2 separate regions of the Homo sapiens genome follow, and region 2 is linked to region 1. A link means that fine-mapping ties the variant in region 1 to the expression of a gene that starts in the linked region. Tissue or cell type: cerebellum. Region 1 holds a variant in brackets; the other region holds the start of a gene. All regions are shown on one strand. Distances are from middle to middle. Region 1 overlaps PRKCB (protein kinase C beta). Region 2 holds the start of PRKCB (protein kinase C beta).

Region 1 (15,547 bases):
ACACACACACACACAAACAAAACAGAAAATAAATCTTGATTTCTATTTCTTCCTCGTTCAATCTTGTGAGGTTGTGTGCAAAGGAAATTTACCCATTTCCTCTAGGTTTTCTAACTTGTGTGCATAGAGGTGTTCATAGTCATCCCTGAGGATCTCCTGTGTTTCTGTGGGATCAGTCATAATGTCAGCTTGGTCATTTCTGATTGTGCTTATTTGGATTGTGTCCTTTGCAGCAACATGGATGCAGCTGGAGGCCATTATCCTAAGCAAATTAATGCAGAAACAGAAAACCAAATACCACATGTTCTCACTTCGAAGTGGGAACTAAACATTGGGTACACAGGGGCATAAAGATGGAAACAACCGACACTAGGGACCCCAAGAGGGAGAGGGCATAGGGGAAGGGGGTCAAAAAACTACCTATCAGATGCTAGGTTCACTATGTGAGTGGCGCGACCAATAGAAACCCTAACCTTAGCATCACGCTCCATAACCACGTAACGAAACTGCACATGTACTCCCTTAATCTAAAATAATTTAAAAAAAACAAAAAAAGAAATCTCAGAGGCCCTGGTCGTGAGAAGCACCCAGCCTCCACTCAGGGATGGAGGGATACAGAAGCAAACTCCACCTTCCGTTTCCTGTTTGATCACAGCAACTCCCAATGCAGGTCTCTGCTATAAGAAGTAGATACAGGTTTTTTCTTTTCCATCACTTATCATAATCTAGAACGACCTCTTATTTTGTTTGTTTGTAATCTTGTTTATTATCTGTAGGTTACATGAGGAGCAAGGGCTATCTTGCCTATTGCTGTATCCCCAGTATACAGTAGGAGCTCAATAAATTTTTCTTTTCAAGATGAGTTCTCACTATACTGCCCTGGCTGGTCTCAAGATCCTGGGCTCAAGTGATCCTCCCGTCTCAGCTTCCCAAAAGACTGGGATTGCAGGCGTGAGCCACTGTGCCCGGCAATAAATATCTTTTCTTAATCTCGAAGGTGAGGATACTTCTAGCAATACAGCAATAAGCCTGAAACACAGTACCTGAGGGTGGGAGAGCTCACTGAGCAGAGATGGTGTTTAGGAAAGAAGTAGAAATGCCTCTACTTCGGAAGGGACCATTTCTGTTCCTAAAATAAATAAAATCATATGATTTTCCTAGGACTATTTTTTGTGGCTCTATGGGTTAAGAGTCAGAACCTTCATGTTAGTCGCCCTACAAAGGAACAAGGGAGATCCTTATTACTAAGTTTTGAAGTTTGACCTCAGCTTAGCTAAGATTTTACTCTGTACCCATTACTGACGGGCTGGTACAAAAATAAGAGCAGTAACTTCCTCTTTTATTTAAACAAAGAGAGAGAGAGAGAGAAATAACGTACTGAACTCTGAACTTCCTCTCTTTTAACCACAACTTACTACTGACTTTTACTTTGGTAAAAAGATTACCAAATCAGGCACATTCTTGGTGCTGATGGATAGTTTCTATCCAAAACTCTGCCTGGAACATTGTCTACTAATACCAATTTTAATATAGGAGCCAGTCCAGGAACCCTGATTGGAAGCGGACAAGACTGACTCCAGGCTGCCATAAAACTGCCCAGCTCAGCTTTGGGGCTGCTACAGTTACATTTACAGGATAGACACTTTCCATACGAAAATGAAACTGCATTCAAAATGCAATTCTATTTCGAGGCACAAATCCACAGCTAGATAGGGCAGAGGAGCTGGGACATCGGGTGCAGCAGCCTAAGTTTGGCCCCAAGCTCTGCCACTTAAGAGCTCTGTGACATTGTATTACAGGAAAGGAGTCCTGATCCAGACCCCAAGAAAGGGTTCTTGGATCTTGCACAAGAAAGAATTCAGGGTGAGTCCACAGTGCAAAGCAAAAGCAAGTTTATTAAGAAAGTAAAGTGGTGAAAGAACAGTTACTCCATAGACAGAGTAGGGGGTTCCTAAAAGTAAGAGAAGGAGCACGTCCACCCTAGGTAAAATATTCGTGTGTGTGTGTGTGTGTGTGTGTGTGTGTATGTGTATATATATGTATATATATACACATATATATGTATGTATATATACACATATATACGTATGTATGTATACACATATATACATATATATGCATGTGTATATATATACACATACACATGCATATATATGATTATATGATCATATATGTTATATATTATATAATCATATATATAAATCATATATATATGATTTTAAAAATCATGGAGAGATGTGTTCTGCTACAAGGGTTTGTGATAAAGGATTAATTTTCTTAATTACTCTGTTTTGCAATAATCAATATTATTATCCTTAAAGCAAAATTAGGAATGCCTTTGTTCTCAAGATATCGGGATAGCTGGACACTGCCAAGCCTGGCTCTGTTTAGTAAACATTATCAATCTGTTCCCTTAACTGTAGACATCTAGAGGCTAGGAATACCTTTCTTTCTGGGAATGCAGCCCAGCAAGTCCCGGTCTTATTTTCCTAGCCCTTACTCAAGATGGAGTCACTCTGGCTCAAGTGCCTCTGACAATTGGGGAAATGACTTCACCTCTCTGGGCGTTAGTTTTCCCATGTGTTAGACAGAAAAGAGTCTCGTTTCTGTTATGGGCAAGCAAGCTTCAGCTAGACCCAACCTTTCCATAGGTAACAAGTAAAAACTCTCAACGAAAAAAAAATTTTTTCCTGAAATTACTCGAAAGTGAACAAAAGAAAGCAGATTCTGCAGAGAGGTTGAAACTTGGAAGAAGGGAATGGTCATTTTACAGCTTTTCCCCTGAACGCAAGCTGCTGTCAGCTAAAACTTCAACATGAAGCCTCAAGTCTTTCTGGTGTACAGAACCAGAGGACAGGTTTCAGGTCACTCACGGCTTCTGGAAAGTGAGGAAGGAATTCCATAATAGAGACAGCCAAGAGAGAAGAGCCCCAAATTCTGTGTCTAAACCCCACCCAAATGTCTGGCTGACTCTTGAACCATGCATGCATGGGGCAGTCCCAAAGAAGACTCAAGGATAAAATAAAAAACAGAACTGACATCTGAGCTGGTGTCCCAGAGACAGTCTACTGTCCAACCAAGTCAATGGCCTACTAAAACAAAAACATCAATGCTTTTCAGAGAAATACGAATGAATCCAGAGTCTCCACAGCACAACACTTACAGTGTCCAGGATACAATCCAAAATTACCCGACATACAAAAAACCAGGAAGATAAGACACAATCTCAAGAGAAGCTAATCAACCAGGAAAAAAGGGGGAGGAGCAATGATTCAGAGTAGGTTGAGGCAATAACCTCAAATTGTGTGAGATACAATGCATTCTACTGGAAAGAACAGAAAACCCATCTTAAGACGTTTTAAGCAGTAAGAGAATTATCTAACAAAACAAAATTTCAAGAGATAGAGCTATATCAAGATTAGTGAATTCAGGGGCTCAAGGATATTGTGAAGGAGACAGATCCTCTCCCTCTTTTTACACTGCCATTTACAGCTTGCCAACCTTGTCCCTCATGGTCAAAACATAGCTGCCACAGCTCCAAGCACCACATGCAAATGTGACATGAAATACTTAAACACAAATCCTTTGTCCTATGTCCCCTTCCTTCCTGCTTTGCCCTGTGAGTATGTGATTCTGGGAGCTATCACAGCCTTCCTGGGACCAAGAAGGGAGACACTGATCACATTTTGAGGATGGCAGAGCAAATAACTGAGAGGCGCTTGATGACAGTGTTAAGTCTTTGATTAAACCAACCCTGGAACCACCAGCCTCCTTGTTAGGCTCGCCAGATATTCTGTTTTTAAGAACCAAAGCAGGTCAGGCATGGTGGCTCATGCCTGTAATCCCAGCACTTTAGGAGGCGGAGGTGTGAGGATTGCTTGAGCCCAAATTCAAGACCAGCCTGGGAAACACAGTGAGACCCTGTTTCTATAAAAAATAAAATAATTAGCTAGGAATGGTGGGACATGCCTGTAGTCCCAGCTACCTGGGAGGCTGAAGTGGGAGGTTTGCTTGAGCCTGGGAGGTTGAGGCTGCAGTGAGCTGTGTTTGTGCCACTGCACTCCAGCCTGGGTGACAGAGCAAGACCTTGTCTCAAAAAAAAAAAAAGAACTAATGCATCCTATCTGAAACAACCTCCAGAATTGGAGAGCTAGTAACACTTGCTATAAATAGAAGGTGAGTATGAAGAACACAATGAAAATTTAAATTATTAAATTCTAGCAGGTACATAGCTCTGAGTCTGAGATTGCTTCATTCTTTTAGCTTAAAAGGGAGATTTGCATGCATTAGAAAGATGTTTAGGACATGATAGCACCAAACTAAGACACTCTCCTTAACCCGAAGAATTAAAAGAAAAAAACATTTTTTTCTTTTTTATACTGAGTCTCATTCTGTTGCCTAGGCTAGAGTACAGTAGCGCGATCTTGGCTCACTGCAACCTCTGACTCCGGGTCCAAGCAATTCTCCTGCCTCAGCCTCCCGAGTAGCTGGGAGTACAGGCACACACCACCATGCCCGGTTTTTTTGTTTTGATTTGTTTTGTTTCTTTTTTTTTTTAGTAGAGATGGGGTTTCACCATGTTCACCAGGCTGGTCTGGAATTCCTGACCTCAAGTGATCCACCCACCTTGGCCTCTCAAAGTGCTGGGATTACAGGTGTGAGCCACCACACGCGGCCTACAAGAGAATTTCTTTTAAAACTACGTAGTTCCATGTTGTTGAATACCTTACATCATTAAAAATCTTTGAGTGCCACCAGTAACATACTTCAGATATTTTAAAAATGCACCCCTGTATTAACAACTCCCAAACATTTACCTCTATCCCTGACTTCTCATGACTTCCAGTTGCCTTTGGGCACCTACACCCGGATATGGCACAGGCACCTCATCCTCAACATACCCAACGCATAATTCTCTATCTTCTCCCCCAAGCTTTCTCTTCTTCTTGTATTCTCTGCTGCTATTCATGATATTTCTATGTATCAAGCACCCAAACCCGGACTCCCTCAATAGGTGACAACATTTATAGTACTTTTTTTTGGTACTAAGTGCCAGGGTGCCACTGCATCTTACACAAGCACTAACATATTTGATCCTGACAACTCTTATTAGGTAGGTCCTATTATCATTCACCCCTTTTTCAAAATGAAGAAGCTAAGGATAAGAAATTTGCCTGGGGTCATGAGATTTGAATGCAGGTCTGTCTAATTCCTCTTTTTTTCTGCTTCACAAAGAAAATAGAAACCACCAAGCAAGATTTCTCAACTGGCCTCAAAACTTCATTTATTTCCCACCCATTTTCCCATCACTTCTCATTTTCACCTGTGCTCTCCCCTCCATGGGTCCTTCCCTTCCTTGACAACTCTCTCGCTCTCTCTCTTTCTCTCTCTCTCTTTCTCTCTCTCTCTCTCCTAATGCTGTCAACCTCACCCCCTTGAGAAGTGCCATGCTCCCTTTGGGAACCTGGAGGTCTTTCTCTCCTGCTTTTAAAGTTTCCTGCCTTTTCTCTGCCTCCTCCAAATTTTCTATTCTTCAAGCTAAACATCCCCGGGTACTTCAACTACTTCTTCCTGCCAAGTGTCTTCTCTCTCTTGCTTCTCCCCGCACCTCACTGACATTCTTCCTCTCTCTTTCACTGCTTCCTCTGCCTCAAAACCCAACTGAGAACTCAGGCTCCTCTGTGCAGCCTCCCCAGGACCCTGGGAGGTGAGCTGCTCCTGGCATTTCTCCCCCCTCTCCACCATTACAGCACACATCACACTGAGTTATCAATGTGTGATTTATGAGTCTGGCCTACAAGTTTAGGGGCTGCTTGAGGACAGAAAGCAGCTTCCCCCTGCCCATCACAGGGCGGCTGACTATGCCAGCCAGACCACGCTGTGCTATCACTCCTTTTACACTACTCTCTTCTGAGTGGACTTTGGAAAAGATACAAAGGAGGGATCTCACACTTTCCAAATCAGACCCCACAACTTGATATGCCACCTTCTGTGCCCTGGCCAAAGACTGACCAGGGATACTGGTGGAGTAGCTGAACCTGGACCTTCAAGCCTAGGAGTCAGACCACCTGGGTTTGTTGCCCTCTTCAACTACTTAGCTTAGAGACCAGTGGCAAGTTAATTAATGTCTCCTGGGATTTGTTTGTTTAGAGAGAGGGTCTCACTCTGTCACCCAGACTGGAGTGCAGTGGTGCCATCAAAGCTCACTACAGCCTCAACCCTCACAAGCTCAAGGGATCCTCCCACCTCAGCCTCCTAAGTAGCTGTGAATATAAGCACGAGCCACCACACCTAGCTCATTTTTTTTTATTCTTTGCAGAGATGGGGTTTCACTATGTTTCCCAGGCTGGAAGCTATTTAATATCTCTAAGCCTCAGTCACTTCATGAAGTTAATAATGAGATCAACCTCCTAGGGTGCTGTGGACATTCAATGAGATCATGTGTGTGAAGCATCCAGCTCAGTGCCTCAATAAATTAGTGCAGCTCTTCAGGGAAGTATTATTCCATGAAAGTGCCTGCTGTATGTAACCCTCTTCCTTCCAAGTGACTCAACAGCTTGCATAGTTCTCAGCCTGTCCTCCCAGCCTGGTAACTTAGGCATGAAGAAATCAGCCTACTGTGATCACGTGGCCAATGAAAGTCCTCAAACTAGAAGCCACTTTCTGAATTCCTTATTCAAGGCTATGGCTAAAAAAATCTACACATGTGCAAACTCCCCCACTGGGAAAAAAAAAAAACAGTTTGATGGAAGTATTCCTCCCACTAGAGAATTTCCCCTTCCTGTCAAATGTTGCCAGTTTCATTCATTGCTGTGGCAGGCACACTTTCCTGGCCATGAGAGATGGGCCTTATCACCATCCCGTATACCAGATCCTTCCTGGTTGCCATTCTGCCACACTCTTACGGGGCCTTCCTCACCATGGTGCTCCTCTGTGACCCCCGGAGCCCTTCACCTTGGTGAACAGACAGTCTGACTCGAATGGACCTGAATTCAATCTACGCTCTGCAGTTACTTAAGCAAATGTTTTATCTTCTCTAAGCTTGCTTTCTTATCTACAAAAGGGATAAGAATAGCAGCAAATCTTAGTGGAAGGTAAAGATTCAAAGGGATAAAGTTTGTGAAAATGCCCAGCTCATTGCAGACACTGAAATATTAGCTGCCTTCATCATCATCATCATCATCCTCATCATCAACGTCATTGTCACCATCAATTCTGAAGTTACACAATCCTAAAACCAAGTCTATTTTTGAATCCTAACTGTAACTTTGGAAAAATTTCTCAATTCTTTGTGCTGTTTTCTCAGCATAAAATGGCAACAATAACAGTAGCAGCCACACAGGGCTGTTGTGAGGATTAAATAAGTTAATACATGTAAAGTACTTAGAACAGTGCCAGTCACCGAGTGAGTACTCAATAAATGTCAGCTCAAGTTAATGGCATTTGAAATCTTTGAAGACATCCAGGAAATGGAAAATTCCCTTGGCCTCTCTGTCCAATGAATAGAGATCCTTCTAGGGACTGCAGACGCACGTGCGCACACACCCACACACACACACACACTCTCTCTCTCTCTCTCACATCCTCAAGCAGGGACAAGCCTAGCCCGGATTTCATTTTTTTCTTGGACTTGACTTTTCGTCCCATCTGGAGTGCCCTGGCCC[C/A]CCTATGGCCCTTGGGCCCCAAATCAGAGACGGCCAGAAGGGAAACACAGAGAGGCCAGCTGTCATGTGGGCCCCCACCTATCAGGCACACCAGAGAACATAAACACACACTGAATCCCAGCCCTTGGAAGTCTCGGCTGGAGGCAACCCTCAGCAGAGTCCCACCATGGGGATCTGACCCACCTCCGTGCTGGCATACTGTTCCCACATCTTCTGGCGGCTCTCTGCAGCCCCTAAACACCTCCTCCTCCCTCCCTCTGTGCTGATTCTGCTCATAAAACACTTCTTTCTCAACCCACATTATCCCCCAGGATAAGCAGCTCCTTCTCTCTGCAGGAGAGGGACAGTTCTCCGCCAGCATTCGACACAGCTCTCTGACACTTCACCCGAGTGACAGGTCAGGCCAGGCAGTTCCGCCAAAACCAATCATTCCATTTCTAAAAACCTCTTATACCATACTTAAAATTCTATTTGGAAAAATAACTTTTGTCTGTGATATGTTAAAGCTGAAAGATGATAATAAAAATTATCTTGGGACATGGTGATGGGGTAAGAATAAAACTTCTAATTATAAAGAATTCAAAGCACTACATTTATATCATCTCTAAAGATTAAAAAAAAAGCCTCAACAGTCCATGGGCCAAGTTCATGAGCCCCCAGAGCCTCTTCTCTATATATTTCACAGTGATATTCGAACTACATTGACAGTTACCTGCAGTAAGAGACACATTTTACATTTTGACCCAGTTCACTCATGGCTATATATGTTTATATCAAATAAAAATTGTATGAGGCCAGGAGTAGTGGCTCATGCCTATAATCCCAGTACTTTGGGAAGCCAAGGTAGGAGGACTGTTTGAGCTCAGGAGTTTGAGACCAGCCCGAGCAACATAGGGAGACCCTATCTCTACAAAAAGTTTTAGAAATTAGCCAGGCATGATGGCATGTGCCTCAAGTCCCAGCTACTCATGAGAATGAGGTGGGAGGATCTCTTGGGCCTGGGAGGTTGAGGATACAGTCAGCTATGATTGTACCACTGCACTCCAGCCTGTGCGACAGACAAAGACCCTGTCTCAAAAAAAAAAAAAGTTTCGTGAAACAATATCTACCCTTCCTGAGAGTGATGCACTGTGATATTTTCTGTTCTGCTTTCTTCATGGTATTCTTGACCTATTATATTGACTTCATGAACTTCTAATGAGTGATGACCCACAGTTTAAAAAACATACATAGAAGAATTCAAGAAAACTTTCCAGAGTGGGGCTGCAATCTGATACAGGGGTTAAGGGCAACAGGACATTGAAGTCATGCAGTCTGGGCTTGAAATACAAGTTGGAATCTCCTGTGACTCAGGAGTGTGTAGCATAACAGAAGTAATGTGAGGTATAAAGTATCGTTGGTTGGATATGAATCCCAGCTCTCCTCTCTGGTAGCTGGATGACCCAGGACAAGCTATTCCCATGTCATTCCCTAGGCCTAGTCAGATTAGGACTCTCTGTCCATGATATTCCAGTGCCAGCAAGTACAGTCTATGAATCTGGATAGTAACTAAATCAGTACTGTGAATGAACCAAGGTATAGTTTGAAATGAACCTCTAAGAAAGACATAGAAGCACGCAGTGAACCCCAGAAGGCATTCCCCCAAATGCAGCCCCCTCAAAACCATCTATAGGGACAAGGCACTCATTCCCCCAGCTGCTGGGAAAACCAATTGCTCACAGCTGTGTCCTCCCTGGGACTCCTCCCCTGAAGAAGGGAGCTGCTTTGCCCAAGGTAATGCTGCCTTCCAAAGAGCAGCCCACAATCAATGCCCACTTGATGCATTGGCTTGTCCCAGTTCTGAAGGGCCGTCTCAGCTCCAGCCATGGAATTGGCTTTGGCCTCTATTACAACTATTGCACCACAGTTCAACTACCTCTTCCCTGCTTCCCTCTATCCCTTATAGATGTTGTTCCCAAGAGCTACATCCCCAATAAACCACCTGCATACAAATCTTCATCTTTTAAGACAATTTATCAATGATGCTAGCCAGAGTTGCAGAAGAACTAAATAAAGATGAGGTCTTTAGGACATTTTTACAAGGGCACATTTAAGAACTTATATTTTTTTCTATAACTAACATTTAATAAGCAATCACATGATTTTTGTTTTCATTTTTGTTTTTTGTTTGTTTGTGGTTTTTGTTGTTGTTTGCCTGTCTCATTTAATCCACATAGAACTCTGGGAGGTAGGCTCTGTGCCATTATCTTCATTTCACAGACAAAGAAACTGAAGATTAAAAAGAAAGATGCCTAAGACCCCACATGTGATTGGGGAGGAACTGAGGCCTGAACCCATGCTCTTGACCAGTAAGTCATCAGACCTCATCCGCACTCCATCACAGCTCTGTGATCACACTGACCACACTGTGTTGCAAGAACTCACTCACACGCCTCTCTCTCTCTCTCTCTCCTGCCACCCCCTCCCCCGCCGGCTCTCTTTATTCTCTCCCTCCTCAAGTACAGGGGCTTTGTCTTCCTTTCTCTGAATCTCAAGCTTTTAGGGAGTGCCAAGTGGTAGTAACGGTAGTATTTGATGGCAGTATTCAGTAGTCATGGTGGTAGTATTCAGTGTTGCGTGTGCACTAAGTCCTGGCCGTATCCTTTGCATACAGCATCTCATCTGGCCCTACCATTTCCCTAGGAGGTAGGTAGTATTATTATCAGGTGTAAATGTTGAGCACTCATTTGGGGCCTGCCTTTGATCAAGTTCATTTTCAGAAATGCACACTAGACTGGAGTATGTTTTTAGACAGCCAAGCAATTGCGAGGACCACACTGAAATTAGTGTGGTGGGTTCCAAAAAATATCACAAATTATTTGCAGCTTCTCCCATCAAGAGGAGGCATCTCTATTCTCTTCTCTATTTCCTCCTTTACTTCTGGGGTGGGCTTGTGATTTGCTTTGACCAGGGAATATGGCAGAAGTGATGTTATGCATGTTCTGAGCCTTGGCTTCAAGAAGCCCTGCAGCCCTTGCTCATGCCCAGAGAATGCACCCATCAGCATATGACCATGCTCAGGATAGCCCACTGGAAGATGAAAGACCTGAAGAGAGGCCCCAGTTGTCCTAGACATCCCTGCTGAGGCCCCAGGAAGGTAAATGAGCCCAGCCAAGAACAGCCAATCCCTGCCCAGATCAGACAGACCACCCAGCTGAGCCCAGCCCAAATTACTGACCCACAGAAACTAAAACTAAATAAAACAGTGGCTACTTTAAGCCACTAAGCCTTGAGGTTATGTGCTATCCAGCAATAGATAATTGATTTGTTGGGTGTCCAGTCAAATATCTGGAAGTAGAACCAACAAAGGATTCTTCTATATAACAAGTCAGCTTAGAAGAGAACTAACCCGGCCTCAAAGAGATCTGCTTGGGATGTCCACAGGTGATATGGTTTGGCTGTGTCCCCACCCAAATCTCATCTTGAATTGTAGCTCTCATAATCCCCATGTGTCATGAGAAGGACCTGGCGGAAGGTAATGGAATCATGGGGGTGGGTTTTCTAATGCTGTTCTCGTGATAGTGAATAAGTCTCACGAGATCTGATGGTTTTATAAAGGGCAGTTCCCCTGTGCACGCTCTCTTGCCTGCTGCCATGTAAGAAGTGCCTTGACCTTCCTTTGCCTTCTGCCATGATTGTGAGGCCTCCCCAGCCATGCTGAATTGTGAGTCAATTAAACCTCTTTCCTTTATAAATTACCCAGTCTCAGTTATGCCTTTATTAGCAGCATGAGAATGGATTAATACAACAGGCAACCAGAGAGGCAAGAATTCTGACTGATTGAAAAACTAGAAAGTCTGACAAGAGCCAGATTGTTCTAATAACTAAAAACAAGAAAAGTGCTTCTTTATTTCACTTTTAGGAACACAAATAGAACTCACTCTTTCCCTGCTATGTTTGATAAGATAAAGACGTCCAGAGTTTTGCATCTTAGTTTTACCAGTCAAGTGAGAGATAAAACTAGATACATCACCGCAAAGAAAGACAAAGGAAATTATGGCTTTGGAGACTGGAGTGAGATTTACTGAGTTCATCAAAACCTGTTTTCTTTTCCTCCTGGACATAGAGCTAGTCGACATGTCCCAGGACCCCCTTCCGTTGGTTGCCTCTTTGCCTGGGTTCTGGCAAATAGAATGTGAGCAGAAGTGATGTGACTTCCTTCCCCAGCTGAAGTTGTTGTGAAATGAGTGTGCTTTCTCAATTTCCCTTTCCCCTTCCACTGGCCCAATGGGGAGGACCCTGGGGTCCTGTGTGACTCTGTGGAAGATGTCCTGACCAGGACCACCTGCACTGGTTAGTGACATGAGTAAGAAATAAACTCCCTTCTGTCAAGCCACAGAGACTTCAAGGTTTGTCTGTTACAGCAGCTTTAATAGATTCTTACTAATACAGAATTTTTGAAATGTTAAGCCCTAAAAATAGTTTGTGAGCTCAAGTTTTCCTAGTATTTACAGAGCTAAATTATTGTGTGGAAAAACTGTCAGAATGCCCTGGCTTCCTTGTTGAACAGTCTGGAACCGATGGGCAACATTGAAACAGGAAGCAGATGTTCCCCAAAGAAGGCAAACGGCACCATTCCCCAATGGGTGATTCCAGAAGGTGCCTGTCTCCCATACGGATTTCACTTCCTCTATGCAAAACTAAAAAAGTCCCAGCTAACATTTCTCAGGCTCAGCCTCAGTAACTTAAAGCTCTGCACTTTTTAAATTTTTTAACAGAAAAATGGGCATAAGTCAATGGAGTTGCATAACAGAAAAGTGGGCATAAGTTCAGGAACAGATGAAAGTAATCATAGGTGATAGAGGTTAGGATAGTGATTACTCCTGAAGGATACGGTTGATAGGGATTGTGAGATGATGCTTCTAGGGTACCAGCATGTTCTGTTTCTTGATCTGGATGTCAATCAATTCTTCTTAAACTCTTCCAAAAAATTAAGGGAGTATTTCTAAACTCATTATCCAAGACTATCATACCAAAGCCAAACAAAAACACAAGAGAAGAAAACTATAAACCAATATCCCTGATGAACATAGATGGAAAAATCCTCAACAAAATATTAGCAAACCAAATTGAAGAACACATTAAAAGAATTTTATTCACCATGATCAAGTGGGATTTCTCCCTGGGATGCAAGGATGGTTCAACACATAGAAATCAATAAATGTGATACCCATGTTAACAAAATAAAGGATAAAAATCATATGATCATCTCAATAGATGCAGGAAAAAAAAGCACTTGAAAAAAATTAACATTCTTTCATGAAAAAAGTACTCAGCAATAAGGTATAAAGGAAATGCACTCAACACAATAAACACTATGGGCTCTATTATGACAAACCCGTAGCTAACATCCTTCTCAGCACTGAAAAGTTGAAAGCCTTTCCTCTAAGATCAGGACGCCCACTCTCACCCTTTCTTTTCAATAGAGTACTGGAAGTCCCAGCCAGAGTAATTAGGAAAGAGAAAGAAATAAAAGGCATCCTAATAGGAAGGGAAGAAGTGAACTTGTCTCTATTTGTTGACAAGGTGATTTTATATACAGAAAACCCTAAAGAATCCACTAAAAAAGCTGTTAGAACTGATCAACAAATTCAATAAAACTGCAGGATGCAAAACCAACATACAATCAGTAGTGTTTCTATATTAGATTATCTAATTATTCTAATTTTATATACTAGCTTATCTAATAACAAACTACCAGACCAGAAAATTAAGAAAACAAACTAATTTACAATAGCAGCAAAAAAAAAATTACTTAGGTGTAAATGTATCCAAGGAAGCAAACTATCTGTATACTGAAAACTATACAACACTGATGAAAGAAACTGAGGAAAACACAAATAAATGAAAAGATATTCCGTGTTCATGGACTAGACAAATTAATATTGTGAAAATGTCCATACTAGCCAAAGCAATCTACAGATTCAGTGCAATTCTTATCAAAATTCCAATGTCATTTTTCACAGAAATAGAAAAAACAATCCCTAAGTTCATATGGGACCACAAAAGACCCCAAATAGCCAAGACAACATTGAGCAAAAAGAACAAAGCTGGAGGAATCACACGACTTAATTTCAAAATACATTATAAAGCAATTGTAATCAAAACAGCACGGTACTAGCATAAAAACAGATGCATCAACCAATGGAACAGGATAGAAAGCCCAGATATAAACCTGCACATTTATAGCCAACTGATTTTTGATAAAGGTGCCAAAAACACACAATGAGGGAAAGGACAGTCTCTTCAGTAAATGGTGTTGGGAAAACTGGATATCCACATGTAGAAGAATGCAATTAGACCTTTATCTTACAAACCACATACACAATCAACTCAAAATTGATTAAAGACTTAAAACCTGAAACTATAAAACTGCTAGAGAAAAACATAAGGGAAAAACTCCACAACATTGGTTTGGGCAATGATTAAGCAAAAGCAAAAGGAGACAAATGGGAGGGCATCAAACTGAAAGCTTCCTCACAGCAAAGGAAACAATTAACAAAGTGAAGAGACAGCCCACAGAATGGGAAAAATATTTGCAAATGCTGTATCTGATAAGAAGTTAATATCCAAAATATACAAAGAACTCAAACAACTCAATAGCAAGTAAACAAATAACCTGATTTAAAAATGGGATCTGAACAGAAATTACTCAAAAGAAGACACACAAATGGCCAATAGGTACTTGAAAAAATGTTCAGCACACTAAGCACTAGGGAAATGCAAATTAAAACCACAGTGAGATATCACCTCACACCTGTTAGAATGGCTTTTATCAAAAAGATAAAAAATAACATGTTGGAGAAGATGTAGAGAAAAGGGGACCCATACACTGTTGGTGGGAATGTAAGTTAGTATAGCCTTATGAAAAACAGTACTAAAAGTTTCTCAAAAAAACAAAAAAGTGAACTACCACCGAGCATGGTGGCTGACACCTGTAATTCCAGCACTTTGGAAGGCCAAGGCAGGTGGATCACCTGAGGTCAGGAGTTTGAGACCAGCCTCACCAACACAGTGAAACCCCGTCTCTAGCAAAAATACAAAATTAGCCAGGCGTGGTGGTGCATGCCCGTAATCCCAGCTGCTTGGGAGGCCGAGGCAGGAGAATGTCTTGAACCTGAGAGGTGGAGGTTGCAGTGAGCTGAGATCGCACCATTGTACTCCAGCCTGGGCAACAAGAGCAAAACTCAGTCTCAAATTAAAAAAAATTAAATTAAATTTTTTTTAAGTAATCCCACTTCTGGGCATATATTTAAAGCAACTGAAATCAATATGTCAAAGAATATGTGCATTCCCATGTTTGTTGCAGTACTACTTACAATAGCAAAGATAGGGAATCAACCTAAGTGTTCAACAGAGGATGAATGAATAAAGAAAGTATGGTGTATACACACAATAGAATCCTACCCAGACTTTAAAAAAAAGAGAGAAATTATATCATTTGTGACAATATACATGAATCTGGAGGACATTATGCTAAGTAAAATAAGCCAGAAACACAGAGACAAATACAGCATGATCTCACGTATATGTGGAATCTAATAAAGTCGTAGTCATAGAAGTAGAGAGTAGGAGGATGGTTACCAGAATCTGGGATGAGGGAAGGAGTTGTTGATCAAAGGATACAAAGTTTCAGATAGACAAGGGGAATAGGTTTGGAGATCTATTGCACAGCAGGGTAACATAGTCAATAATAAGTGTATCATATATTTCAAATAACTAAGTAAATTTCAAATGTCTCACCATAAAAAATAAGTAAACAAGCTGATGGTTATATTAATTAGTTTGAATTAACCATGACACATTGTATATATGTATCAAAACATCACATTGTACCCCATCAA
Region 2 (15,547 bases), 21 kb after region 1:
AGGTGGGTGGATAAATGGAGGGATGGATGGATGAATAAATGAATGTATGTGGTGAATAGACAAATTTCCTACTGGATTTTCAAGCAGCCATCACACCTCCAAATGCCATATGTAAACACTGTGGATGTTGTATTCTCTGTAAAAAGGCTAACATTCTATCTATGGAATTTCACACAATTTCAATGAAGAGATTGGATGAATGAAGTCAAAGAATTCATGTTATTAGAGCAAATGCCAGAACATAAGGGACTTACCTTTGAAGGCGTCAGAGACAAACTTTTCAGCAGATCCCCCTATCTACCCAAGAATTAATTGAACTGCAGAGTTAAAAGGCCAGACCATATATTTTAAATTATACTTAGTAATTTAATGACCTGTATCTGAAAAGTAGCAAAAGAAGATGCGTATTGTGAAAATTATAACATATTGATCTACTTACATATATGTGTGTGTATACACGTGTGTGTGTGTGCATGTGTGATGGAAACAAAGAGACAGAGACAGAAGGATAAGCAGAGACAGAGAGAAGAGAGACCCCAACAGTACAAATGTGTATAAAATTATTTTCAAACCTTCAGTTAATCTTTTGACCAATTGCCTTCTTCTGTATCTTCTATTTTTTTTTTTTTTTTTTTTTTTTTTTGGCCTAGATACACTATAAACATGCTGCATCTGGTTGTGGGCAGTATCTCTGGAGTATCATTAGTGCTTGGAAATAATATATTTTTTAAAAATTATATCCTAAGAATCTATATATCATATCAGCTAGATTTTCAAAGGTCATATTTTCCATATTTACTTAGAAAGGCATTCTGTTGCCCAGTGACAAAGCTTCAGACTCCTCCTGAGTGCTCTACAGTGAAAAATGAATTCGTTGTTGCCTCTCCAACAAATCAGCCCTCCTTTTTAAGACTCAATGTTAACCCACTCAAAGATTCTTATTTCGATTGGGACATTGAGCCTGAAATCCCCCGTCAGGTGGTAAAAAAAAGAAAAAAGCCAAATCATCAAACACGAAGTCAAAAAGCCTCTGCCTTTTATTCACAGAGAAGCCCGCAGGACACATTTAGAATAAGCTAAAAGGTGAGTGGAGTTTGGCTCACAGGTCTCTGGGGTCTGCTTCTGGGAAGAAAGAGAAGTGAAACAATAGAAGTAACCTCTAAACTTGCAGCCTGACTTGGTGATTTTTTGAAAAAATGGACCTCTTTATGATTTTACTAAGAAAATTCAACCTGAAGTGCATGGGGCCATATTATAAGTTTCTAGGGAACACTGCCCAAAATAAAATTAACTTTTGATTCATTTTTTGTTATATAAATACACATATGCTATGCTAATCTACACATGTTAATTACCCACTAAAATAAACTTTATATTTGATAGGGTGAATATTGATAAAAACAAGAATGGTTGGATTCATGTCATGATTTGGGGTTTTTTAAGAATAATTTCAACTACAAGATTTAAAAACCTGTTTTCTAATCTACATGGGAAAAAGAAGAGCTGACTTACTCATTATCATCAATTCTAGCTTTCCATAGAAAATAAAATTAACCTTTTTTGTGATATAAAAAAGTGCAAACTTTTCTAGTCTACATGTGTTAATTACACACTAAAATAAACTTTGATTTGATAGGATTGATATTGATGAAAACAACAATAGTTGGAGTCATGTCAGACTTTGGGGTTTTTTAAGAATAATTTCAATTAGAAGATTTAAAAACATGTTTTCTAATCTACATGGGAAAAGGAAGAGCCAACTTACTCATTATAATCATCAATTCTAGCTTTTCATAGAAAATTTGTACACTGGGGTTTTTCTAGAGAGTCCATGGCAAGTTCAGATCTTTCTCAGAAGAAAAGACAATGCTAACCAGGCATGGGTTTCTGGGCCCAGACACTGAACTGAGCACTCACTGGTGTTACCCAATACCCAGGAAGAAATATACCCAAGAAGAGAAACTATCTAAGTACATGAAAGAGGCCTAGTCATTTAACAAGTTCCAGAATGAACTCCGTCCCACTTTGACACAGTTTCCTACAGCTAATCAAGTAATACTGATGGTCTCACTTAGAGTCATTGATACTTGCTGTGGCTATTTCTCATGCACCACCTCATTATTCTTCACCATAACCCTATGAGTTAGGTGCTATTATCCCCATTTTACAGATGAGGAGACCAAAGTTGCTGCTGGGGGACGACTTGCCCAAGGTCACACAGGGAGTAAGCGGCTCCATCAGAGATACATACCCAATTCTACTGGACTCCAACTCATTGCTAAGAATTCTGAATCTCTATATTTTATTGCCTCTCTATTTCTACCAAAGTCACTTCCTTTACAAAAACAACAAACACTTTGGGAGGCCAAAGCAGAATGAGACTCCTGGCTTGAGGCTGGCAGTTTGAGACCAGGCACAGGCAGCAAAGCAAGATCCACTATCTCTACAAAAAATTTTAAAATTAAAAAATATGTATTTGGCCAGGTTCAGTGGCTCACACCTGTAATCCTAGCACTTTGGGAAGCTAAGGCGGGCAGATCACCTGAGGTCAGGAGTTCGAGACCAGCCTAACCAACGTGGCGAAACCCCACCTCTACTAAAAATATAAAAATTAGCCGGGCATGGTGGCACGTGCCTGTAGTTCCAGCTACTCAAGAGGCTGAGGCACGAGAATCACTTGAACCTGGGAAGTGGAGGTTGCAGTGAGCTAAGATCACGTCACTGCACTCCAGCCTGGATGACAGAGTAAGACTCCGTCTCAAAAAAAAAAAAAAAAAAAAAAAAGGGCCGTGGTGACACACACCTGCAGTCCCAGCTACTCAGGACACTGAGGCAGGAGAATCACTTGAGCCCAGGAGTTTGAGGCTGCAGTGAGCTATGATCATGTCACTGCCCTCCAGCCTGGGCCACACAGTGAGACCCTGTCTCTAAAAACAAAATTTAAAATAAAAGAAGAAGGTTTTTCTCTCTACCAAAAATCTTCTTAGAGAAGACTTTAATTAAAATTAAAGCTCAAATGCAGGTCCTAAGTTCCTGTAAAGAATGCCACAGAAACAGCCAGCACTGTAGCTCATGCCTGTAATCTGAACACTTTGGGAGTCCGAGGCGGGTGGATCACCTGAGGTCAGGAGTTCAAGACCAGCCTGGCCAAAATGATGAAACCCCATCTCTACTAAAAATACAAAAATTAGCCAGGCGTGGTGGCAGGCCCCCGTAATCCCAGCAACCTGGGAGGCTGAGGCAGAAGAATCGCTTGAGCCCCAGGAGATGGAGGTTACCGTGAGTCGAAATGGTGCCACTGCACTGCAGCCTGGGCAACAGAGTGAGACTCTGTCTCAATAAATAAATAAATAAATAAAAGGCAAAGAAAAAAATGCCATAGAGAGAAATCTGCCTTGCTTGTCAAAGGAGTTCCACTTCTACTCTAGAATTTAGGCAATTTTACAATAGGGATCTTCAGCCCCAGTTCCCTGTCATCAAACACATTCTTAAATTACCTCCCAGAGAGTGGTTTTATAAGAAATAGACAGAGTGGAAACAAAAAGGGAGAAATTATGAGGCAGTCAACCTAGAGTTTCGTCCTATCATCATACGAAAGCAAGAAAATCTATTCTTAAGCTCCCCTGAGCACACAGAAATCCATAATTTCCCAAGGTTTATGAGTTTTCCATCCTTCCTCTCCCAACCCATAGCAGTGTCCCCAATTTCCATGACAATGTAATAGAGCCTGAAGGTTACTCTCAATGGTTTCTTTGCCTTGCGATCATCCTACACACCTCCTACCAGAGTGGCAGAGACAACATCCTCTCTCTGCTTGTATTTTTGAAATGGAAACATCCTCTAAATAGTGGCTGCCTGAAATAAACACTACATTTCCCACATGCTCCCTCACAGCAAGGTGTGGGTATGTGATTAAACCCTAGCTAAGAGGATGTAGGTAGAAGGATCTTGAGCAACTTAAACAAGTGACACCGAGCATGTGCTATATGCCCTTCTTTACCCCTTTCTTCCTTCCTGCTAGCTGAAAGAAGGGTGTGAGGACTCCAGCGTCTAGCATCCTTTTTGGACCATGAGATAATTGTCACTCCCCAGGGATAGTGGAGCAGAAAACTCAAAGGAACCTGAGGCCCTGGGCTCTGGATTGCTGACTTAAGTGAGATCATAAAACCTTATGTGTTTTGTATAAACTGTTGATTCCATCGTAAGTGGATTTACTTTCAGAGGAAATATCTGATACCAAGAACAATCAGATACTAAGGAACTCCTCAGTGGTTCCAGAATTAGTCCCAGGCAATGCTGAGTACCAGGGATAAATTTCCCTCTTTCCTATATGTTCCCATTCTAAACATCTCAATTTCAGGGACTGCCAATCTGCCCCTCCCCTCACTCCTCCCTACTGCTGCCCAAATGGAATATGCTGTCAAAGCAGCTACACAGAGTGACCAGAAGTTCATGGCTGAGTTTTGACTCTTACCTGGCAGGCAGTTCCATAGCAAAGCAACCCTGCAGAGCCAGTCTTCTCTCGTGCCAGCTGCCCCACCATTGGGGTAGTCTGGGGACAATCATAAGAGCAGATATTTTCTGAGCATACTCTGTGTCAAGCTCTGGTCCAAGAATCTTGGATATTGCAATGAGTTGGAGCTGCTCAGCCACACTATGGTACTGTTACTGACTCCGTTTTATAGACAAGGAGGCTGAAATACAGAGAGGCTAAGTAATATGCCTGGGAAGTCTCAAAGCTAGGATTCAGACCGACAGGGACTTGCCTGGTAGCCTGTGCAAATGCCCACTTCTCTACGCTGCCTCTTGGTGGGGAGGCAGGGAAGAGAAAAAGAAAGGCAATTTAAAAAATAGACACTCCAGAGGGGCATAGTGGCTCACACCTATAATCCCAACACTTGGGGGCTGAGGTGGGAGGGTTGCTTGAAGCCAGGAGTTCAAGACCAGTCTTGCAACATCACAAGACCCCTTCTCTACAAAAGTTGTTTTAAAATTAGCCAGGCATGGTGGTGCGTACTTGTAGTCCCAATTAATCAGGAGGCTGATGCAGGAGGATCACTTGAGCCCATGAGTTTGAGGCTGCAGTGAGCTCTGATCATACCACTGTACTCCAGCCGGGGCAAAAGAGTGAGACCCTGTCAAAAAAAAAAAAAAGACACTCCTATCTCTAGAGCGCCCATATTTCATTACAAACTTTAATTCTGCCTTTTTCTCTTAACATCAGAAAATTCCTATTATCTTCCAGACTTTGAGTTAAAGGATCTCCTATTTCAAATGTGTCATGCCTTGCACATTCCAAAGTGACTTTCCCATCCATCAATAACAGCAGAGCAGGTGGCATAGAAGATCCGTGGTAAAAATGTTTAAAAATCGCCCCCGATCTCAGCAAGAGACAAAGACTGAAACTGATTCATGGAAGTGAAAGGCAACCTCAAAGAAGAAATTACACATTCCGGTGCCAAGACACCATTGGCATTTTGTTTGAGGGGTCAAAGTTCTAGAAAACAATCCAAATTTGTTTGCACCAGGGCCTAAGTTGTTGCCACTTAAAGAGACTTGAGGAGTCCTCTGGTGTGGTGCAGAGGATCCAAATCTTGGTAAGACAGGCTGGGTAGGTTGGCAGGGCTCACTGAGCCCACCGGGACCCCGATCTCAGAAGAGTATGCAAGAGTCTCAGAGGAGCACAGTGCCATGCTGCCAGCAAGCAAACATTCTGCACCACTGACGATGCCACCTACACTCACTAGGGATCACTTTACTTTTCCCTGGAGGGTGGAGGTGCAGCCACAAAACTGTCAGTCAGTGCTAAATCACGTCAGACTCTTCCACACTCAAATACTTTCTTTTGATTTAAACCCAGCTCACCAGGGTGGTGGTCACTTTGCCCCTAAAGATACAATACCCCAGAAATGTGCCGTTTCTTACCAAACTCAATCTTACCAAGCCCAAGAGTGAAAAATTAAAATTTAAATTAAAAAGAAAACATAACACACAAACTTTCCAGATGAGAGGTTGCAAACTTAAATGCCCACAGGGGCCAGAAATGGGTGAAGTGTTCCCCACTGGGATCAACTGAGACAAAATGGTAAGGCTGTTCCCCATCTACGACGACGGCTCTCAGCTCCAAACGATTGTTTTCAAGCGAAAGTGAGACCATTTCTCAGCAAAGTTAAAGTTGGAAATTAGGATGTGTATGTGAAATCTCCCAGTTCTAAAACGTTCACATCAAATTCACAAGTAAGACACCCTAAGGGCTACACAGAGCTGCGGGTAACTTTTGGTCCTGGAGAGCCAATTTGCAATCTGTCTTTTAGACATGAGCCCCAAAGACGGGGGAGGGGGACACTTTACACGTGATCAACTCACCACCAGCAGGTTTGATACCCCTGGTTAGAGTCCAGGATCTCAAGCCAGATGCAAGAACTCAGGTAACCAGTGCCCTGGAGACCTTTCTGTTTCAACCCAGAAGATAGGGTGATTTAAACCAGGATCTGAGAAACACTCCCTCTGGAAATACTTCTTTCAGAGAGAGAGGAGGCCCAGGCGACAAACACAGTCGCCTTTCTAGGGGATGCACCATCTGCAGAGGAGCGGCAGCCACCTGCAGAGACCTCTGCAAGGCAGGGAGAGGCAGAACCTCCCTGGGTGAGATAAGGAAGGGACATGGGCAGAGAAAGGGGAACTAAGGAGGACAGGTTCTCCCAGAAACGTCCCGGGAAAACACTTTCTCCCCCAGCGGAACTGACCATGCCAGGATTGCTTCAGGAGACCGCTTTGACTCTTCCAGAGCCGGGAAGGCAGGAAGGGTAGGTGAACTTCCTTGGCATGTAAGACTCCCAAGCGCCATCGGCCCCAGTCACACACACACCCCTTGAAAGGACCCTGTTGTGGTGAAGAATTCCTAGCCTGGGAGGTCACTCCGACCAACGTGATTCTTTCACTCTCTGCCTAACTCAGTAACTTCTTCTATAAAGTATTTTTCACCCTCTCTTCCCACAAATAGCATCCCCAAAGCCCCAGAGCCTACCTTGGCACTGGAATCCCTGCTTCCCGAAGCCCCTGCAAAAGCAGAAGGAGGTGTATGTCAGGCAGCCCGGGGGGCCCAGCCTCCAGCTAGTTACCCACAGAGTCACCCGCCTTCCTCCCTGCCTCTGTACCCCAGGTGCAAACTCCCAGCCACAGGCGGGTGCCCAAGAGTCTTCCGCCTTTGTGGGGGTAGGTGGGAGCTCGGCTGTAACCCCCATCTGCCTTCACTCCTGCAGAAGAGAGGAGGCTGCGACCACCAGGTGGCGGGATAGTGGGGAGCGTTTCCGTCGGGGTAGGGGCTGAAGGCAGGCGACAGATGTACCCATAGATGCCCCGAGCACCCTCGGGAAAAGAGAAGAGATAAAGACGCATTCAGAGGGAGGGCGAGAGTGACCCCGCGGCGGTGGTGTCCTCTGGGAGGGGGACTGGGAAGGAGGAAAGGATGCCCCACTACTGGAGGGACTGGGGAAGAAAGGGGCCCGCAGTGATGTGACCGAGGAGTGGAAAGGGGAACCCAGGCCCTCGGGGAGGGGCAATGGGAGATAACACAGGGCGCTGCCCGGAGGCACAGAGGAGTGAGAAAGGATGTCCCATGCCCGCAGGGAGATAGAGAAGGACACCCAGGGCGCCGCCCCCCCCGGAAACAAGGGGTGGGGGGCGAGGGCTCCTCGCGCCCGGAAGCAGGCGGAGAGATAGGGAACCCCGGGTCGGAGAGCACCCGAGGCGCTGCCCTCCAGGGCAGGCACAGACCCCGCGCGCTCCTAGTCAGGTGGAGCAAAGGCTCCCGCGACGCCGCCCCTGGGCGCTCTAGAGGCGCCTGAGAGCAGGAGAGGGCAGGAGGCGCCCCGCGGCGGCCCGTCTGGGACCAGGGTGGGGACAGGGCAACGGCAGGACTGTCCATCCGGGAGTCCCGGGCAGCAGGGTCCGGAGCCGGGAGTCCGGAGACGCGGGGTCCCAGGGTGCGGAGGGCGCGGAGGGCGCAGAGGGCGCGGAGAGGGGGTCCCTGGCGCGGCGCTGCCCTCGGGGGCCCGGGAAGGTGCCCTGCGCGCGCGCGCTCACCAGATGAAGTCGGTGCAGTGGCTGCAGAAGGTGGGCTGCTTGAAGAAGCGGGCGGTGAATTTGTGGTTCTTGACCTCATGCACGTTCTTCTGCCGGAGGGCGCCTTTGCGGGCGAAGCGCACGGTGCTCTCCTCGCCCTCGCTCGGCGGCGGCCCCGCAGCCGGGTCAGCCATCTTGCGCGCGGGGAGCCGGAGCCCGAGAGGTGCCGGCCCCGGGGCCGCGGGACCGCGGGCTGCGGGCCGGGGAGGCGCGGGAGGCGGCGGCCGCTGCTGCACCCGGGGCCGCGGGCGCTTCCCCTGCGCCGGCTCTGGCGGCCGCGGCGCGCGGAGCCGGGGCTGTCACTCGCCCAGCTGCTGCCGCTCGTCCAGCTGCGCTTGGCACCGCTGGCCCCAGCTGCGGGGGAGGGAGGCGGAGCCCCGGGCCAGCCCCGCCCTCCTCATTTGCATCGCGCCCAGGCCCCGCCCAGCGCTGCCAGCTGCTTTACATATCGGCGCCCGGGCTACCGCGGGCCTCGCGGCTAAGCGTGCACAGCCGCAGCTCTGCAGCGCCGGGACCGCAGCCCGGGGTCGTCGGACCCGAGCCTCGCCCCCCACCCCACCCCGTCCTCGGCCCCCGGGGCTGCGTTCAGGAGATGTGCCCAGGGGAGGAGCGAGAGTGGAAAGACCTACGGGGCGAAGGGGAGCGGGTGGAAGGGGTGGGGCGCAGCGAATTCCACCCCGGCCTCTGCGGAGACTGGTACCCATCCACCCCCATCCATCCCATTGGTCATTCTGCACGCGTCTCCTGGAGGGATGGGCTCCCGCTGTCACTCATTCGGAAAGGCTTGTGGCCGCACACACTTACACACACATACACACACACGTTCTGCAGAGGTAGGGGAGGAGCGATCTTTATTTTATATGTCTCTAACTCCACCACAGAGAAGATTCTTGGCTTTGCTTGCCTCCTGCACGTTTGGAAGAGAACTCCCTACCTTCTGTCCATCCCCTCTGCAAAACGACTCCGTTTCCCCAACTGTAACATAGGGCTAATAGTGTGGGGAGGAAGGATTTCAGTAGATCAATATTTTTCCAAATTTCATTCATTTCTGACTCGTCTTCACAAATTCTGGTCGTATTTGTGCACCCTCTGGGGGAAAAAAAGCCTATCTCTTTTGGTCTGAGTTTGAACAGCAAGAGGTATCTACATTATTAAAATATCTCCAGGTGCCGTCATCTGTCCTAAGCATCTTCGACTGAAGTCATCTTTTATTTGTTAAGAGAGGAAATTAATAAATGCTAGAGGGGTGTTAAAGACATTACTATCCAACCAGGACTCTCTCCTTGATGTGATCTGAAGGTAACTGAAAGGGTAATAATTGTCTACAATGTGTAATTCAATGTTATTTAGCGCCCTGTTCATGCACAAGGCCTAAAGATACCCACTGCCACCATGTCCCCCACTCTGGGAACGCAGAGCTTCATTAGGCTGTGAGCTCCTTCACCAGACCTAGGCTCTGTGAGAGCAGGGGGGCTGTTCACCACCATGTCGCCCAGCACCAAGCTCAGTGCCTGACACCTCCCAAGACCCCAGTAAATATTGGTTGATTGAGTGAGGGCATGGATGAACAAGTGAATGAATGAAGACTTAAAGGTCGGCACTTCTTACCCCCACTCACACCCAGTAGGTGTTTAATAATAAATATCAAGTGATTGCTGGGCATCAGGTACTTGTGCTGTCTTATTTAGCCCCCGCAACAACCCTATGTAGATCTGGTAACTTTCATTATGGATAAGGATGGGGAGGTTCAGAGTGATTAAGATACACCCACAGTCATACCGTTGCTGAATGGTGATTGGGCTGGCCTGACTACAAAGCATCCTGGTGACAAAGGGGTGAACCTGAGTAGTGGTGGATGAAGGGGGGCAGGCTGGAGTTGCACGAGCTCAGGTCCCACTATGACAATTTTGCCTGGAAGCTGCTGAGTGGTAAGTCATTATTAGGTAGCATGTCGAGAGCAAGGGCTGCAATAATAGAATGTCCCTCTCCTACATAGTAATTCAAAGGTAAGGAGGAAAAAATAGCATTCACTTTTAAGGTTGACATGTTTGGGAAACTGGATGTGCCTGTCTATTATTAGTCCTTGAAGAGGCCCCACCACCTCCCAGGGAGGCTTGGGAAAACATCCCAGGAGACATTGCTGCTGAAGTAGATTTCCTTTGAACTGATGAGCTGGAAGCTCACAGCCCACATCCTGCCTTTTGAATGAAGTGCCCTGGATGACTTTGGTCTGTAACAACAAACAGTACCTCATGGCGCCGGGGCCTGGGGATGCAAGGGCTGTGGATGGAAAAGAGCCACTTGGTTCCTGAAGGCGTTGCACCAAGTGAGGATGAGAAATGTGGTTCCCATTGGACCCAGATTCCTGTAGGTCAGGGTCTCAAACTGGTGGCTCCAGATGCTCTATTTTTTTTAAGCTAGCCCAGTGGGTTGTTGTTGTTGTTGTTGTTTTTTAAGTTCACGGGTCATAGAATTTTACTTAAATATCCAGATTCTGACTTATCTAGGAAAAAAGATAGAGCTAAATGGAGCCTACATTCCTCCCTCACTCATACATTTGTTCTTTCAATCAACAAATTGCTTATTAAGCACCTACTGTGTGCTGTTCCAGATACTGTTAAACAAACCAGACAAAGGTCCCTGCCCTAGTGGAGCTTATAGTCTAATGGGGAAGGGGGAGTAATAACCTAACCAACTAACGAATCCATACCTGGTGGTGTATAATAGAATGTTTGTAAATAAAAATAAAGCATTATTATAAAGACCACAGGGAAATCCTTTATAATATGGGGACATCTGAGTAAGGCCTGAATAAAGTGAGAGGGTGAGCCAGGGGACTATCGAGAGTTTCCAGACAGAGAAAACAGAAAATGCAAAGAGCCTAGGGGAGTATCAAGCTTGGTATGTTGGAGAAATAGCGAGAAGGCCTCAGTGGTTGGATGAACAGAGAGGAGAGAGGACTTATGAGATGAGGTCAGGGAGGTAGCAGGGCCCCAAAGGGCTTTGCAAATGTGATAAGGAGTTTGGATTTCACTCCAGTGAATGGAAGCCATTGGAGGGTTGGAAGCTGAGGAGTGGCCTGATACAACTTATGGGGTTTTCATTTTAAAAGCTTACCCTAGCTACTATGTGGAAATTAGAGGAGAAAGGGTGGAGGCAGGAAGAGCAGTGAAGAGGTCAACTGAGCAGATCAGGCAAGAGATTAGGGCAACATGGCATAGTGCCAACAGGAGCTGCAGGGCAGCAGCTCCCCGTAGATTGGGCATGGGTCCTCCTTGCCACCAGAGCCCCCCAGGCCCACTCTGCTCATGAAGGAGTGAATGCTGGTCACTTGAAAGATTTCAGAGGCAGTGAGGGGGCAGGTTGCTGTGGCTGAGAATGGAGTCCAAGGTCCCTTTGCTCCAGACCTGTGGCTGCCATAAAAAATTATAACAGAACAGGGTGGCTAGAAATAACAAAAATTTATTCTCTCATCATTCTGGAGGCCAGAAACCATAAGTCACAGTGTCAGCAGGGCCACATTCCCTCTGGAGGTTTCAGAGGGGAACGCTTCCTTGCCTTTTGTGGCTTCTGGAGGCTGTCAGCATTCCCTGGCTTCCCTGGCTTGTGGTCACATCGCTCCCATCCTCCTCTGTCTTTATATCACCCTCTCCTCTGTGTGCCTATCTTCACCCCTTCTGTTTCTCTAATATCCCCTGTATATCTCTTTTTTCTTTTCTTTTTTTTTTTTTTCCAAGATGGAGTTTTGCTCTTGTTGCCCAGGCTGGAGTGAAATGGCATGGTCTCGGCTCACTGCAGTCTCTGCCTCCCGGGTTCAAGTGATTTTCCTGCCTCAGCCTCCCAAGTAGCTGGGATTACAGGCACCCGCCACCATGCCCGGCTAATCTTTGTACTTTTAGTAGAGACAGGGTTTCACCATGTTGGCCAGGCTGGTCTCAAACTCCTGACCTCAGGTGATCTGCCTGCCTTCAGCCTCCCAAAGTGCTAGGATTACAGGCGTGAGCCACTGCACTGGCCCTATACCTTGTATATCTTTTATATGAACACTGGTCCTTGGATTTAGGGCTTCACTGGATAATCCGAGATGATCTCTTCATCTCAAAATCCTTAATATAGTTATGCCTGCAAAGACCCCTTCGCCAAATAAAATGACATTCACAAGTTCCAGGAATTATAACATGGATGTACCTTCTTGGGGGCTACCATTTAAATGACTACAGTGCATAACCCTGGGCAAGTCACTTACTTCCTCCTGTGTCTCATTTTCCTCTTCTCTAAGGTAGGACAAGGATACAGTAGTTTGCCTCTCAACCCCTTTATTCTTTTGTTTTTTGTTTTGTTTTGTTTTGGTTTTGGTTTTTTTTGAGACAGAGTCTTGCTCTGTCACCCAGGCTGGAGTGGAGTGATGCGACCTCGGCTCACTGCAACTTCCGCCTCCCAGGTTCAACCCATTCTCCTGCCTCGGCCTCCCAAGTAGCTGGGATTACAGGCGTGCACCACCGTGCACAGCTAATTTTTGTATTTTTAGTAGAGACAGGGTTTCACCATGTTGGCCAGGCTGGTCTGAAATTTCTGACCTCAGGTGATCCACCCGCCTCAGCCTCCCAAAGTGCTGGGATTACAGGCATGAGCCACCGCGCTCGGCCTCAATCCCTTTGTTCTAAGGCTGCACTCTTCAACACAGTTGTCACAGTACCCACATGTGGCTGCTGAGCATTTGAAATGTGGCAACTCTCAAGATCACTTAGAACTGCTACTAATTGTAACTAAAAACCTATAGTAAGAAACAAGAAAAGGCTAGGTGTGGTGGAGGCTTATGCCTCCACTTTGGGAAGCCAAGGTGGGAAGACTACTTGAGTCTAGGAGTTTGAGACCAGTTGAGGCAATATAGTGAGACCCCATCTCCACAAAAACTTTTTTTTAATTAGCCAGACAGGTAGTCCACACCTGTAGTCCCAGCTACTCAGGAGGCTGAGGCAGGAGGATCATTTGAACCTGAGAGTTGGGGGTTGCAGTGAGCCATGATTGTGCCACCACACTCCAGTTTGGGTGACAGAGTGAGACCTTATCTCAAAAAAGAAAGACAGGAAGAGAGACAGGGGGAGAAAGAAGGAAAGAGATAGAGGGGAAGGAAGGCAGGAAGGCAGGGAGAGAGGAAGGGAGAGAGGGGAGTATGGCCCCTTCAAAGGGAAAAAATAAACCAACAGAAACTGTCCCAGAGAATGATCAGAAGGTGAGCCTACTAGACAATGGCTTTAAAGCAACTATATTGAAGATGCTCAAAGAACTAAAGGAAGACATGGAGAAAGTTAAAAAAATGCATAAACATAACAGAAATGTCAATAAAAAAATAGAAAACCCAAAAAGAAACCAAAAAGAAATTCTAGAGGTGAAAATACAATAAATGAAATTTAAAAATCACTAAATGGTTTCAAAGGCAGATTTAAGCAAGCAGAAAAAAGAATGCACAAATTTAAATATAGGACAATTGAAATTATTGAGTCTGAAGAACGAAAAGAAAAATGATTGAAAAAAGTGAACAAAGCCTGAAACACTTGTGGGACACAATCAAGCAAACCAACAGCGTACCATGGGAATTTCAGAAAAAGAGAAAGAGAAAGGAGAATTATTTGAGAGCTTATTTGAAGAAATAATGGCCAGAAACTCCCCAAGTTTGATAAAAGACATGAATATAAACATCCAAGAAGCTCAGCAAACTTCAAGTAGGAATAACTCAAAAAGACCCACACCAAGACATTATAATCAGACTGTCTGAAGCCAAAGACAAAAAGAGAATCTTTAAAGTGTAAGAGAGAAGTGACTCATCATATACAAGGGATCCTCAATAAGATTATCTGCAGATTCTTATCAGAACTTCAGCAGTTAGAAGGTAGTGGGCTGATGCATTCAAAATGCTAAAAGAAAAAATAATCAACCCAAAATTCTCTAACTGTCAAAACCGTCCTTCAAAAGTGAGAGAAATTAAGACATCCCCACATAAGCAAAAGCTGAGTTTGTCACCACTAGAGCTGCCATGCAAGAAATACTAAACTAAAGGAAGTCCAGCAGGTTGAAATCAAAGTGCACTGGACAGTGTCTTGAAGCAATGTAAAGAAATAAATATTTCAGTAAAAGTAAATACATGGGCAATTATAAAAGCTAATATCATCATAAAATCCACTTACTGTTTTCTCCGTGATTTAAGAGACTAATGCATTATTTAAAATTACTACTTTATGTTTTTGGGTGCACAATGTATGAAGATGTAATTTTATGACATTAATAACTGAAAGGGATGGGGACAGAGGTATTAGAAGCAGAGATTTTGTATGTTATTAAAGTTAAGTTGGTATGAATTCAAATTAGAATATTCTGACTTTAGGATTTTAATGTAATCCCCATGGTAACAACATAGAAAATAATTATAGAATATACACACAAGGGAATGAGAAGGGAATTAAAACATTTCACTGCAAAAAAAAAAAAAAAAATCAGCTAACCACAAAATAAGATAGCAATGCAGGAAAAGAAGAACAAGAAAAGCTATAAGTTATATAAAAAACAAATATCAAAATGAGAAAAGTAAGTCTCTCATTCTCAGTAATTACTTTAAATGTAAATGGATTAAACTCTCAAATCAAAAGACAGAGATTGGCAGAATAGATTTTCAAAAATGCGACCTAACTATATGCTGTCTACAACAAGAGAACTCACCTTAGGCCAGGCATGGTTGCTCACACCTGTAATCTCAGCACTTTGGGAGGCCAGGGCAGGCAGATCACCTGAGATCAGGAGTTCAAGACCAGGCTGGCTAACGTAGTGAAACCTCATTCTACTAAAAACACAAAAAAAAATAGCCAGGCGTGGTGGTGGGCACCTATAATCCCAGCTACTACAGAGGCTGAGGCAGGAGAATCACTTGACCCTGGTAGGTGGACTTTGCAATGAGCCGAGATCAAGCCACTGCACTTCAGCCTGGGTGACACAGCAAGACTCCATCTCAAAAATAAATAAAGAAATAAATAATAAAGAGATCCTACTTTAGATCCAAAGACACAAATAGGTTGAAATTAAAAAATGTGAAAGCAGGGTCTGAAAGAAATATTTGTACCCATGTTGACAGCAGCATTAGTCACAGTAGCTAAAACATGAAAAGATAAGCAAAATGTAGCATATACATACAATGAAATATTATTCAGCCTCAAAAAGAAGAAAATTCTGACACATGCTACAACATGTATGAACCTTGAGAACATGATGCTAAGTGAAAGAAGCAAGTCATAAAAAGACAAATACTGTATGATTGCACTTATACGATATTGTTTTAATGTGCCTCCCCCACCCCCCCAGATTTCATGTGTTGGAAAGTTAATCCCCAGTGTGGTAGTATTAATAGGTGGGGCCCTTAAGTGATGGTTGGATC

The links.
Region 2: PRKCB starts here. The variant in region 1 is fine-mapped to the expression of PRKCB in cerebellum (GTEx, PIP above 0.99). The same link has a PIP of 0.9 or more in cerebellar hemisphere and lung.

The regions. Positions count from the first base shown.
Region 1 is chr16:23,849,734-23,865,280 of GRCh38, reverse strand. The region is part of intron 2 of PRKCB (protein kinase C beta); the gene reads right to left. Among named protein-coding and RNA genes, the nearest start is that of PRKCB, 22 kb to the right of the region's middle. RefSeq lists an enhancer at 11,672-11,761. The variant C/A (reference allele first, on the strand shown) is at 7,665.
Region 2 is chr16:23,828,887-23,844,433 of GRCh38, reverse strand. It overlaps PRKCB (protein kinase C beta), which reads right to left and starts at 8,451. Exons shown (of 17, transcript NM_002738.7): 1 at 8,086-8,451; 2 at 7,028-7,059. The coding sequence starts at 8,258. RefSeq lists enhancers at 2,217-2,266, 7,346-7,485, 7,749-8,294, 8,295-8,842 and silencers at 7,796-7,875, 8,206-8,285, 8,316-8,955.